Linked DNA regions of Homo sapiens. The protein of the gene in region 1 purifies or fractionates together with the protein of each later gene. This does not show direct contact. Each region holds a gene or a part of one and is shown on either strand. Other genes may lie near its edges. The genes, in order: NCSTN, TOP2B and SFXN1.

The links.
Region 2: the proteins of NCSTN (region 1) and TOP2B fractionate together in Homo sapiens (co-fractionation; one large-scale study listed by BioGRID). This does not show direct contact.
Region 3: the proteins of NCSTN (region 1) and SFXN1 purify together in Homo sapiens (affinity purification with mass spectrometry; one large-scale study listed by BioGRID and IntAct). This does not show direct contact.

Annotation. Positions count from the first base shown.
Region 1 is NC_000001.11:160,353,305-160,356,566, reverse strand, and holds part of NCSTN (nicastrin isoform 1 precursor), read right to left. Parts: intron 3,245-3,262; coding exon of another isoform or gene 3,236-3,244; exon of another isoform or gene 2,473-3,235; intron 2,450-2,472; coding exon 2,277-2,449; intron 913-2,276; coding exon 810-912; intron 705-809; coding exon 609-704; intron 308-608; coding exon 220-307; intron 1-219. UniProt on the Homo sapiens protein: Essential subunit of the gamma-secretase complex, an endoprotease complex that catalyzes the intramembrane cleavage of integral membrane proteins such as Notch receptors and APP (amyloid-beta precursor protein).
Region 2 is NC_000003.12:25,623,408-25,627,136, reverse strand, and holds part of TOP2B (DNA topoisomerase 2-beta), read left to right. Parts: intron 1-272; coding exon 273-365; intron 366-462; coding exon 463-577; intron 578-2,333; coding exon 2,334-2,455; intron 2,456-2,691; coding exon 2,692-2,840; intron 2,841-3,390; coding exon 3,391-3,622; intron 3,623-3,729. UniProt on the Homo sapiens protein: Key decatenating enzyme that alters DNA topology by binding to two double-stranded DNA molecules, generating a double-stranded break in one of the strands, passing the intact strand through the broken strand, and religating the broken strand.
Region 3 is NC_000005.10:175,477,060-175,480,659, reverse strand, and holds the start of SFXN1 (sideroflexin-1), read right to left. Parts: upstream 2,101-3,600; 5' UTR 2,021-2,100; exon of another isoform or gene 1,993-2,020; intron 1-1,992. UniProt on the Homo sapiens protein: Amino acid transporter importing serine, an essential substrate of the mitochondrial branch of the one-carbon pathway, into mitochondria.

The DNA.
Region 1 (3,262 bases):
TGGGTGGATGGTGGGTGAAATAGGAAAAGCCCAAGATTGGCAGCAGCCAGAAAGAAGGGCAATGGAAAAGGATCCATCAAATATGAGAAGAAAGAAAGGAAAACAGGGGGTAAGAAAAACAGAGAGGAAAAAGAAAAAAAATAATAAAGGTTAAACCAAAAGACTTTTTCTCTATCCCTTTCCTCAGCTAAGGGTCCCATTCCCACACCAGATGCTTACCCAAGTAGGACCTTAGGTCCTGCCTGAGGATAGACTGGAACCATGAGTTGTTGGCTTTAATCAGGAACCCATAGAGCAGGCGGGTAACCTAGGATTGGAACAGTAAAGAGAGAAAACCCTGTGACTTGAAGGGAGCCCAGGGAAAGAATTATCAGTGGAGACCCAGTCATGGGGCAGGAACCAGACTGGCCAGATAGACTGGAGTTGGGAGACAGTAGCTGGCTCATAAGATGCAGATGAGGCCCACCCAAGAGCTCTCTGGGGCATGAGGCATTCTCACCGGCATCAACAGTCATGTGGAATTCCAAGGTTTGGGACACTAGGGCAAGGGAGGATAGGGACAGCTTGCTGTGTAAATAGAAAGAAGGAGCTAGGGCCCATCTGCTTACCGTTTGGGGATCAGCCTGAACTGTGTCGCTGAAGTTGGTTCCTCCTGCAAGCTCATACAGAGCACGTCCCAGCACCGTGGCCACATCTGCCAGGGCCTGTGGTAGGTGAGGAGGGGGCTGAATGGCCCACCTCTCCTATCCTCAAATGCTAGCATCTTCACTGTGTGCCCCAGGCTCCCACCCAGCCTGGCTCAGTGCTACCTTGGCAGTGTCTGTTACAAAGTTCAGGTCCTCTTCAGGGCTCAGCCATTCGGGATAGCTCACATTAATGTTCTCAGCAGTGTCGTAAATACTCTGGTAATATCTGCCAGGAAAGCCGGCATGAGCCTTGGCTACATTTAGCCAGGGCTCTGCCCCTTTCCTCCCTCAAATGCTCCTTATGCAGGGACTCAGTATCTCATTTTCAGCATCAGAAGAAAGGGGTGAGAGACAATCAGGATCCCATATTGCAGAAGGTGTGGAGAACAGGGAGGTAGGAGTGAGGGTGAGGTGGTTAGTGAAAATTAAAGACTTTCCTGACAGACAAGGTAGAAAAGCTGAATGAGCTCAGATCTTTAAACAAAGGAGAGACTCTTCTACATCATTTGGGCTGGAGATATGGGGGATGGCTAAGATGATTTTCAGAGAACTCTGCCATGTATCATGAGATCAGTTGTATAACTGTTCCAATGAACATTTATATTTAGGGTAGCTGGGAGCAGGAGGTGATTAGCAGGTCTTAGGATCAGGTCTGCTCACTGATATATAAGAATACACTGATAAAATCACCATGATGATCCTTATGGAGCCCCAAGGAGATAGATCTTAAAAGAGAGGCTGAGCTCCACAGTCTTTACCATCAGTAAATCCCTGTCCCACACAAAGTCAAGTCAGCTACATAATCAAATCCAAAATGTGTTCAAATGATGAATCTTCACTTGCCCCAAAGTGGTACAAGGATAGCTTTAGAGAAGACAGCTGACCCTAAGTGCTAGGACGGTCACTCCCCTAAATGAATGAGAAGGTGCTACTTGGCTGGGGTCAGAAATAGAGCTCAAGCATTTTCACTACGAAACTCATTTGGCCCTCGGGAAGCTTGGCAATCCAGCCTGAGTAAGAAGTCCCCTGTTATCCAAGGCCTCAAGTTAGGAGCAGTTAAAGGGTAACCCAGAGTTACCCTTTGTATCTCTGGAGCCCCATCAGCTATAGGAGGCACTTTTACCCTCGCACTGAACCATGGCCATCTACCACATGGCAAGAACATGGTACATTTCACAGAGTATGAATACTGTTTCTGGCACCTCTGGGTGAGTTCCAGAGAAGGACTGCTTTCTGTCTTCTAGCCAAAGGGCCCCCACCATCCTTCCCATGCTTGTGTTTGAGATGATGCCCTCTGCTGGCAACCCTGAGGAACTCAGGACCCTGGAGAGCTAGGGAGCAGTGGAACCATAACCAAGGATTGTTGACAGTAAAGGGCTAAGGGTGAGGATGAGTTTCTAAGATGAATATCCAGTCAAACAAATAAGGGTTTCAGTTCAGATGTGAAAACGCCACTGAGCAAAGAATACAGATGGACCTGAAGTTCTGGAGGGGGTAGTGTGGGAAAGCGGAGGGCAGTGACCTTCCTCCCAGACTGCAGAATAGACTCTCTTCAAGAATGAAGAGGGTGCAGGGCCAAGTGATTCTTACTTGTTATGGAAGGCACCAGAGTGGTCAGCCAGAACAACGCCAGAGATGTTTCGAGCTCGAAGAAATCGCTGCAGGGAAGATGGTGGGAGAGGCTGGGACTGATTTGGCCTCCTGAGGATGACAGCAGGGACACCAGCACCACTCTTCTCCAATGTGGCCAGGAGATCCTCCACCTGGGGGGTACGAGGGAGATTAACTGATGGGAGGCTGGGGGATGGGAAGCAGGAGGTCTCTTTTAGGCCTGAAATGCTCTATACTTCAAGTTCCCTGCTTGGGGAGCTACCCTATCTCTAGTAGACCTTTATCCCTCAAGCCTTTTGGGACCAAGGCTCTCTGAATTTCCTGTAGCTTCCACCATTCTTTTTAGAGTTAGAAAATTGGGGCATAAAGAAGAGACCTTTTTTTTCATATTTATAAGTAAATTCTACTGTCTTCAAGACTCTGCTTTATCCTCAGTGGATGCTTCACTTATTATTTATTGTGCAGAATTGAAGGGAGCAAATAATAATAGAAAACTGCGTGCTGAATGCCAAACAGATAACCAATTCTTTAAATGCTACAGGAGTCCAGAGCAGGGATGATGCTGAAGGCTGGAATTGCAGAAAGAGGACCACCTGGAAAAAAGCAGGCCTAAAGGTGGACCTAGAGGGAAGGGAAGGTTTTGAACAAGCAATGAGGAAAGTGGAGGACAAGTTGGGCAGCGAGTGTGACACAGCCAGGACTTGGGTAGAGCAGCCTTGACAATTGGATCCATGGGGCAGCAAGGCAAGAAGGGAGCTAGTCACTCACCTATCCTTAATGGGCAGTGGTAGTCTGCTAGGCAACAAATGATCAGAGAACTACCCAGTCCAGGGAACCAATGGAATGTCACTGAGTTCCTGATTCTTCCCAGCAGCAACAACAGCTGTGGTGTTCATCCTTTGGCCAACACCCAATCCAATCCTGTCTCTTACCCTGTCTCACAGGCCCTGGGGGTTGGTGGAAAC
Region 2 (3,729 bases), on another chromosome or scaffold:
TATTCCTTTCCTCCCAGTCCTGGTTCCCTATGATAAGTCTCTTTTGAATGCTCAAGCTAGTTAATTTTAATTTTTCCCCCAGATGATGCTGTGCTTGTATAAACTTCTTTAATTGAAAGACCTTAGTTTAAATGTGTTTTTGATTAAAATATTGTAAAATAACCTAATTTTCCAGAAATTAAGAATTAGTTATTGGCCACTTATACATTTTAATTTTGTAATAAAATTTATTTTATTTTTAATGTGCAAAATCGTTACCTGGAATCTTTCAGGCATTTAGTAAGAAGAAGATTGATGACAGAAAAGAATGGTTAACAAATTTTATGGAAGACCGGAGACAGCGTAGGCTACATGGCTTACCAGAGGTTAGTCTTAAAGAGTGGTGACCTGGGGAAAGAAGGAGAGAGAGACTAGAATTCATGCAGTAATAATGATAATATTGCTATATAACTTTTCTCTTAGCAATTTTTATATGGTACTGCAACAAAGCATTTGACTTATAATGATTTCATCAACAAGGAATTGATTCTCTTCTCAAACTCAGACAATGAAAGATCTATACCATCTCTTGTTGATGGTGAGTAATATTTAAAAACCTCATTTTTTAATGTTATTTACTATAGTTTAATTTCATGTACTTTAAGCCATCCTTATGATACATATTAAAATTCTTACTTTAAATCTTGTATATGAAGAGCTTATTCAGAGGAATTTAAGGCCTTTTTGATTTTGCTTTTGTTTTATGTTTTCATAGTGCTGAAATCTTTAATATTCCTTAATTTGAAACTTTTAAACCTTTTCCGAGTTTTTCAGGAAAATTAACTTTAAAAGTCTTAAAGCTTTTGCCCAAGTTGTCTGCAGATTTTCTAAAAAAGTAAAATGGAACTTTGATAATTTCTAAAATATTTATCAGAGATTAAATTTTAAAAAGCTTTTATTCTGTATTACCCAAAGCCTAATGCTTTAACTTAACTTGAAAAAAATTTAGGAACTATTTCTAATTTGAAAAAAATTTAGAAACTATTTCTCGTTAGTTGAAGCAGATTTTGATCTTCTATCTAGAACTTTTTTTTTTCTCATAACCTTTATGAAGTTTGTTGATCTTTGTATTGCTTGGCTTTTCTGGTAATAGCAGATGTTTCTACCTATCCCTCAAGTTCTAGCCACAAATCGCCTTTCTTCTATGAAGCCTTCCTAGCAATTCTACTCTAAATTGGTCTTAGATACCTAAACTTCTATACCAATTATTATGTACCTCTTATTTTACCTTTGTTCATTTTGCCTCTAGAATTAGATTACAAAATTCTTAAAGAAGTTGCCATATTTTATCATCCTCATGTTTTTACCATACTCTGGGTCCAGTATGATTACAGTGATAGCATATACTGAAAAGATTGTTACTGTGCTTATTGGCCTAGAGCCAGGGTGTCTAACCTTTTGGCTTCCCTGGGCCACATTGGAAGAGGAAGAATTGTCTTGGGCCACATGTAAAAATACACTAACACTAACGATAGCTGATGAGCTTAAAACAAAAACAAACAAAAAACAAAAATAATTGCAAAAAAACCAAAAAACAAAAATAATCGCAAAAACAAACAAACAAAAAACCTCATGATGTTTTAAGAAAACTGACAAATTTGTGTTGGGCCACATGCAGCCCACGGGCCACGGGTTGGACAAGCTTGGCCTAGAGCAAGAAGAATGGTAAGGGAGCAGAGTGATTTGCTCACATTGTTTCATGCAATCCTTATGAAAACTATATTAAGAAAGTAATTATTTCTATTACTTGGATGAGGACATAGACTTACTAGTTATTTGCTTAGTCACATGGTAAATGGCCAAGTTGAGAAGAATATACAGATTAGTGAGATTCTAAAGCCTTTATTCTTCACTACCACAATAAATCGCTTTTTATAAGGGTTTTCCTGATGTGGGATACTTAGAATAGATTTCAGGCTCCTTGATGGCATGCTGGCAATTTAGTTAGCTACAAATGGCGTTTTGGTTGTTTGAGTGTTTGGAAACTACTGTTAAAGGAGTTTGGTACCACTAGGTGATTCTTTAAGGCCAGAATGTTGTCTTTCAATTGGCAGTTCACTTTTGGAGTAGATGGAGATGGCATAAAAACATCTTAGTATATACCTGCAGATGGCTTTCTAGGAAAAAACAAACAAACAAAACAAACGTGTTAGTATGTACTCACTTTGTTACAGAATCTCAAGTAACAATTTTACTGGTGTTCTTGAAAAGCAAATTGTATCTTTGCTTTATTCCCCTGAATTGTTACAACTATATCTTGAAGTAACATTTTAAAAGAGCTCTTTTAAAAATAGGCTTTAAACCTGGCCAGCGGAAAGTTTTATTTACCTGTTTCAAGAGGAATGATAAACGTGAAGTAAAAGTTGCCCAGTTGGCTGGCTCTGTTGCTGAGATGTCGGCTTATCATCATGGAGAAGTAAGCATTAAGATTGGAATCAATTGAGAACTGTAATTATTGTCTTGAAGAATGATAATTACACATAGTATTTTTCCTTTAGTAAAGTCTTTGGAAATGTAAAAGAATTAAGAGAATATACAGATTAGTGAGATTCTAAAGCCTTTATTCTTCACTTGGATTTTAATTCAAGTTGGGGAGTAATTATAGAAAATTTAGAATATTAATGTTATGTTCTGCCTTCTTCTGTTGTATAGCAAGCATTGATGATGACTATTGTGAATTTGGCTCAGAACTTTGTGGGAAGTAACAACATTAACTTGCTTCAGCCTATTGGTCAGTTTGGAACTCGGCTTCATGGTGGCAAAGATGCTGCAAGCCCTCGTTATATTTTCACAATGTTAAGGTAAATATTTGCTGATATAATGGTATAAAGTTTGATTTGATTTGGAACCAACTAACTAAATGTTCGATGGAATTATAGCTGTGGAGAGATGTGATTATCTGGTTATTCTACTTAGAAGGTGAATGTTCCAAATTATTTGACCACAAATAGAATGAAGTCTGTTGACCTTAATTTTTATGAATTGTTGGTGAAATCAGTCCTAGTGAATTAAGGATGTTTTTCTCACCAACTTTACTCTTTAGGCTGAAGATGGGTTATGTACTTTATTTAGAGTAATAGGAAATTCTTTAAAAGTTATCAATATTAAATCAGGTAGGTAAGTACATAAGTAAAATAGGACTATTTTATTCTGGGCTTGTAACTGAGAGAAAGATGCATTTGAATAATACAGTTAGGCAAATTTTATTATTAAGCGGATGTAATCAAAATTATTAAAAATGCATTCTCTTCAAAAGATTTGTTTTTGCAGTGTGAAGTTTTTAATTATGTATAAAGTTTTCTTTCCCAAAGCCATGACATTTTTTCATTTGCTTCTTTTTGTTTTCATTAGCACTTTAGCAAGGCTACTTTTTCCTGCTGTGGATGACAACCTCCTTAAGTTCCTTTATGATGATAATCAACGTGTAGAGCCTGAGTGGTATATTCCTATAATTCCCATGGTTTTAATAAATGGTGCTGAGGGCATTGGTACTGGATGGGCTTGTAAACTACCCAACTATGATGCTAGGGAAATTGTGAACAATGTCAGACGAATGCTAGATGGCCTGGATCCTCATCCCATGGTAATTATTTGGAACTTATTATTTATTTAACAAATGATAATGTGTAAACTACAAATTCCCGTCATTTTAGAAAAGTAATGGAACATTTTTATTTTAGAACATATTGT
Region 3 (3,600 bases), on another chromosome or scaffold:
TTGGTGCCTTTCTGTATCCATCCCCATGGGGTTTCATAGAACTTTTACAGAAAATTAAGAACAGCTAAACACTTCACTGATCCTGAATTATGACACCCTTTGCCATATAGGGTCCTCTCTGACAACTGTAACCACAGATATCATCCCTTTTCTGAACATCCATGTGGCCTGAAAGCCTCAATCTAACCTCTGAATACGTACTAAGCTGAGATGGGAGCTGATAGCTCCTCCCTGCCAAACACTGTATTTTTTTTTTTTTAAGACGGAGTCTTGCTCTGTCGCCCAGGCTGGAGTGCAGTGGCGCGATCTCGGCTCACTGCAAGCTCCGCCTCCCGGGTTCAGGCCATTCTCCTGCCTCAGCCTCCCGAGTAGCTGGGACTACAGGCGCCCGCAACCACGCCCAGCTAATTTTTTGTATTTTTAGTAGAGACGGGGTTTCACCGGCTTAGCCAGGATGGTCTTGATCTCCTGACCTCGTGATCCGCCCGCCTCGGCCACCCAAAGTGCTGGGATTACAGGCGTGAGCCACCGCGCCTGGCCCAAACACTGTATTTTTGAAAGTGAGACACCTGCTCAGTGCTGAGGAGAGAAAGGATCTGCTTGAGGTCCCAGAACTTCTTGGTAGCCACCCCATTCATCCTCCCAAACAGTTCCCTCTCATCTTTTATATCAAGTCTGAAGCTGTAGGAGCTGCAAAGCCTCCTCATTTACCTGCATCCTCCCTGGGCACCTATAACAATGCCTAGAACACTGAAGCAGATCAGTAAAAGGGGGATGGACAAAGAAGGGAGAATCCAAAGGCACCCAAGTCAAAATCTAGAAGTCAACGCAGAAGAGGGACTAGGACTGTGAGAAATGTGCAGGGAAAAAGCTATGGGGGCGCAGAAAAGAGTTGCCTACGGAGCAGCTAAGTGCCCAGGCTCTGGAGTGAAGCAGAGCTAGGCTTTTTCGTTCAGGCAGTCAACAAATACTCATTGAGGGCCTTCTTGGTGCAGGCAATTGTTATGCGCAGGGGATAGATAGGCTGAGCAACACAAAATAGGCCCTGTTCACATGAGGAGAAGAAAACATGTAAACACCTTTAATTTCAACTAGTGACAAAAGACACTAAAGAGAAAAAACCCAGAGTTTGTGTTACAAAGGGTGTGTGGGGGGATGGGGGGTGCAATTTTAGACAGCATAGCCAAGGAAAAGCGTCTTTGAGAACGCAGTATTTACGACTGAGACTCAGATGGCCTTGGACTATGGATGGCCAGCTGTGTGACCTTGGGCACTCAACCTCTCAGAGCCCCAGTTTTCTCATGTGGATTATAGAGCCAACACCCAGTACCTCGCAGGGCCGGAAGAGTGTAAAAGTATATGGACCTAAGTCACCTGGCACGCACTTAGTAGACTGTTTATTGTCATTCTGGGCAGGTTAGAGACCTGTGACAGACGTGAAAGTTCAGGAGAAAAGCGTGAAAATGCAAGGTCCCTGTAGGACCAACTACTACTCCAAGAATCTACTTCCTTGCACATCACCTCCCTACTGGATTGCGAGTTCTAGGGCAGGAACCAGGTGGTCTCCCCTCCGACCCCCAGCACCAGGAGGCAAAGCCGAGAGCGCGGAGCGCTGGGCCAGGCACTGGGCCACCTGGCTGCCGCTGCCCCCGAGGCAGCCATCTTGGTGTCCCCGGAGCGAGTTCGCCACGCAGGCGCCGAAGACAGCGCGGCCAGGCGCGCGGGGACGCGGCGGAGGGCCCTTCCCACCGGGGACGAGGCCCACGGGATGCTGGGCCTCGGGATGCTGGAAGCGTGGTGTTGTCCGGCCGCAGGATGCCAGGGATCCCCAGGTGCAGGGACCCCCCCCCCGGCCCGAGGCATCCCCGGCCCGCAAAGGGGCTTCCGACCTCCGAGCCCGGGGTCTCCCCGCAGCCGGCCCGCGGGTGCACGGCCCGAGCCTGCCCAAGCCTGCGCGCCTCCGCCGGGCCCCCTGCGCGTTTCCCCACCCACCTGGCTGGGCCTGCCGCCCGCGACTCACCGCTTCCCCCGGGCTGCCGCCCGCGCTGCTCGCAGGTCCCGCTCAGTGCAGCCTCCGCCGCCACCGGAAACGCTTCTCCCGCCACGGCGTCCTCGCGCGTCCCCGGAGCGCGTCCTCGCGCGCGCCTGTGAGCGCGCGTCCGGGCCCGGGAGCTACGAGGCCCAGGGACCCGCCCTCCGGGTCCAGGCCCGGGTCCAGGCCCCGCCCCGCGCCCGCGACTCCGCTTCTGGCTTAGCGACCGCGCCCCGGGTCCAAGAGGAACTCCAAGCCCATCCTCACGGTGGTGTGGGGCTCTGCGCGGGCTGGGGCCACTATGTTCCATTTGGGTTTCCCTTAAGGGACTGCTTCTTTATCATTTCTTTATTCCCAGGGCCTTGGCGTAGCCAGCATCCGTTCACGCAGTCATTTACCCAATTAAAGTGTGGAGCTTGGCAAGACTGGCGCTACAAGGCGATTTTAGGACTTTAGTGCCACGACCTGATTTATGTCTTAAACAACAACAACAACAACGGCGCACTCTGTCTTCTTTATGGAGAACAGACTGCGTGGGAGGGGATGTGGAGGCAGAGAGGCTGTTTAGCCAGATGCTGTGGTTATCCAGGAGAGGAATCATGGTATTTTGGACCAGGTGGGTAACCTGGGCATATTTAAAGGGCAAATGAAATCTAATAAATGGTGAATTACATCATAAATTGCATAGGAAGATTCCATTTTTAAAGATGTAAATTCTCTCCCAAATGACCTATGACAATAAAAAAAAATTCGACAACACTAGTGTGCTTGGTGGAGTGTGTGTTATAACTGCACAAGCGGACTGCAAAATGTACATGAAAAAAATAAAGAGCCAGAAACAGCCAAACAAGCTTTTAAGAAAAGAGCAAGGCAGAGTGACTTGTCCTGCAGATACAAAACTTGTTATAAAACAATGGTAAATAACAAAGGTGGTGTGTTTGCTCCGGGGTCAACAAAGAGCCTCGCGGAGCCAAATAGAGTTGCCATCCATGTAGAAACCTGCACATGTAGAAACCTGCTGTGAGTTGGCATCACAGGTCAGGGGACAAAGGTTAGATATTCATTAAACAGTACTGGGATAGCCAAATCCCTACTTGTATAATACATGAAACTCAACTCCAGGTGGATTAATGATCCAAACGTGAAAAACAAAACTTCTAAAACTTAAGCAATATGTCACAGATATTTTGAGTGCTATTCCTCATCCTCCAAATTCCTATGAATGTTTAACTAGCTTTTTCTCTGTACCATACCCTGTGCCAAGTGCTGGGCTCAAAAAGATATATAAAAGATCGCCCCTTCTTGGCTGGGCACTGTGGCTCATGCCTATAATCTTAGCACTTTGGGAGGCCGGAGTGGGTGGATCACCTGAGCTAAGAAGTTTAAGCCTGGACAACATGGTAAAACCCCATCTCTACCAGAAATACAAAAAATTACCTGGGCATGGTGGCGTATGGTCCCAGCTACTCAGGAGGCTGAGGTAGCAGGATTGCTGGAGCCTGGGATGTGGAGGTTGCAGTCGGCTGAGATTGTGCCACTGCACTCCAACCTAGGTGATAGAGTGAGAC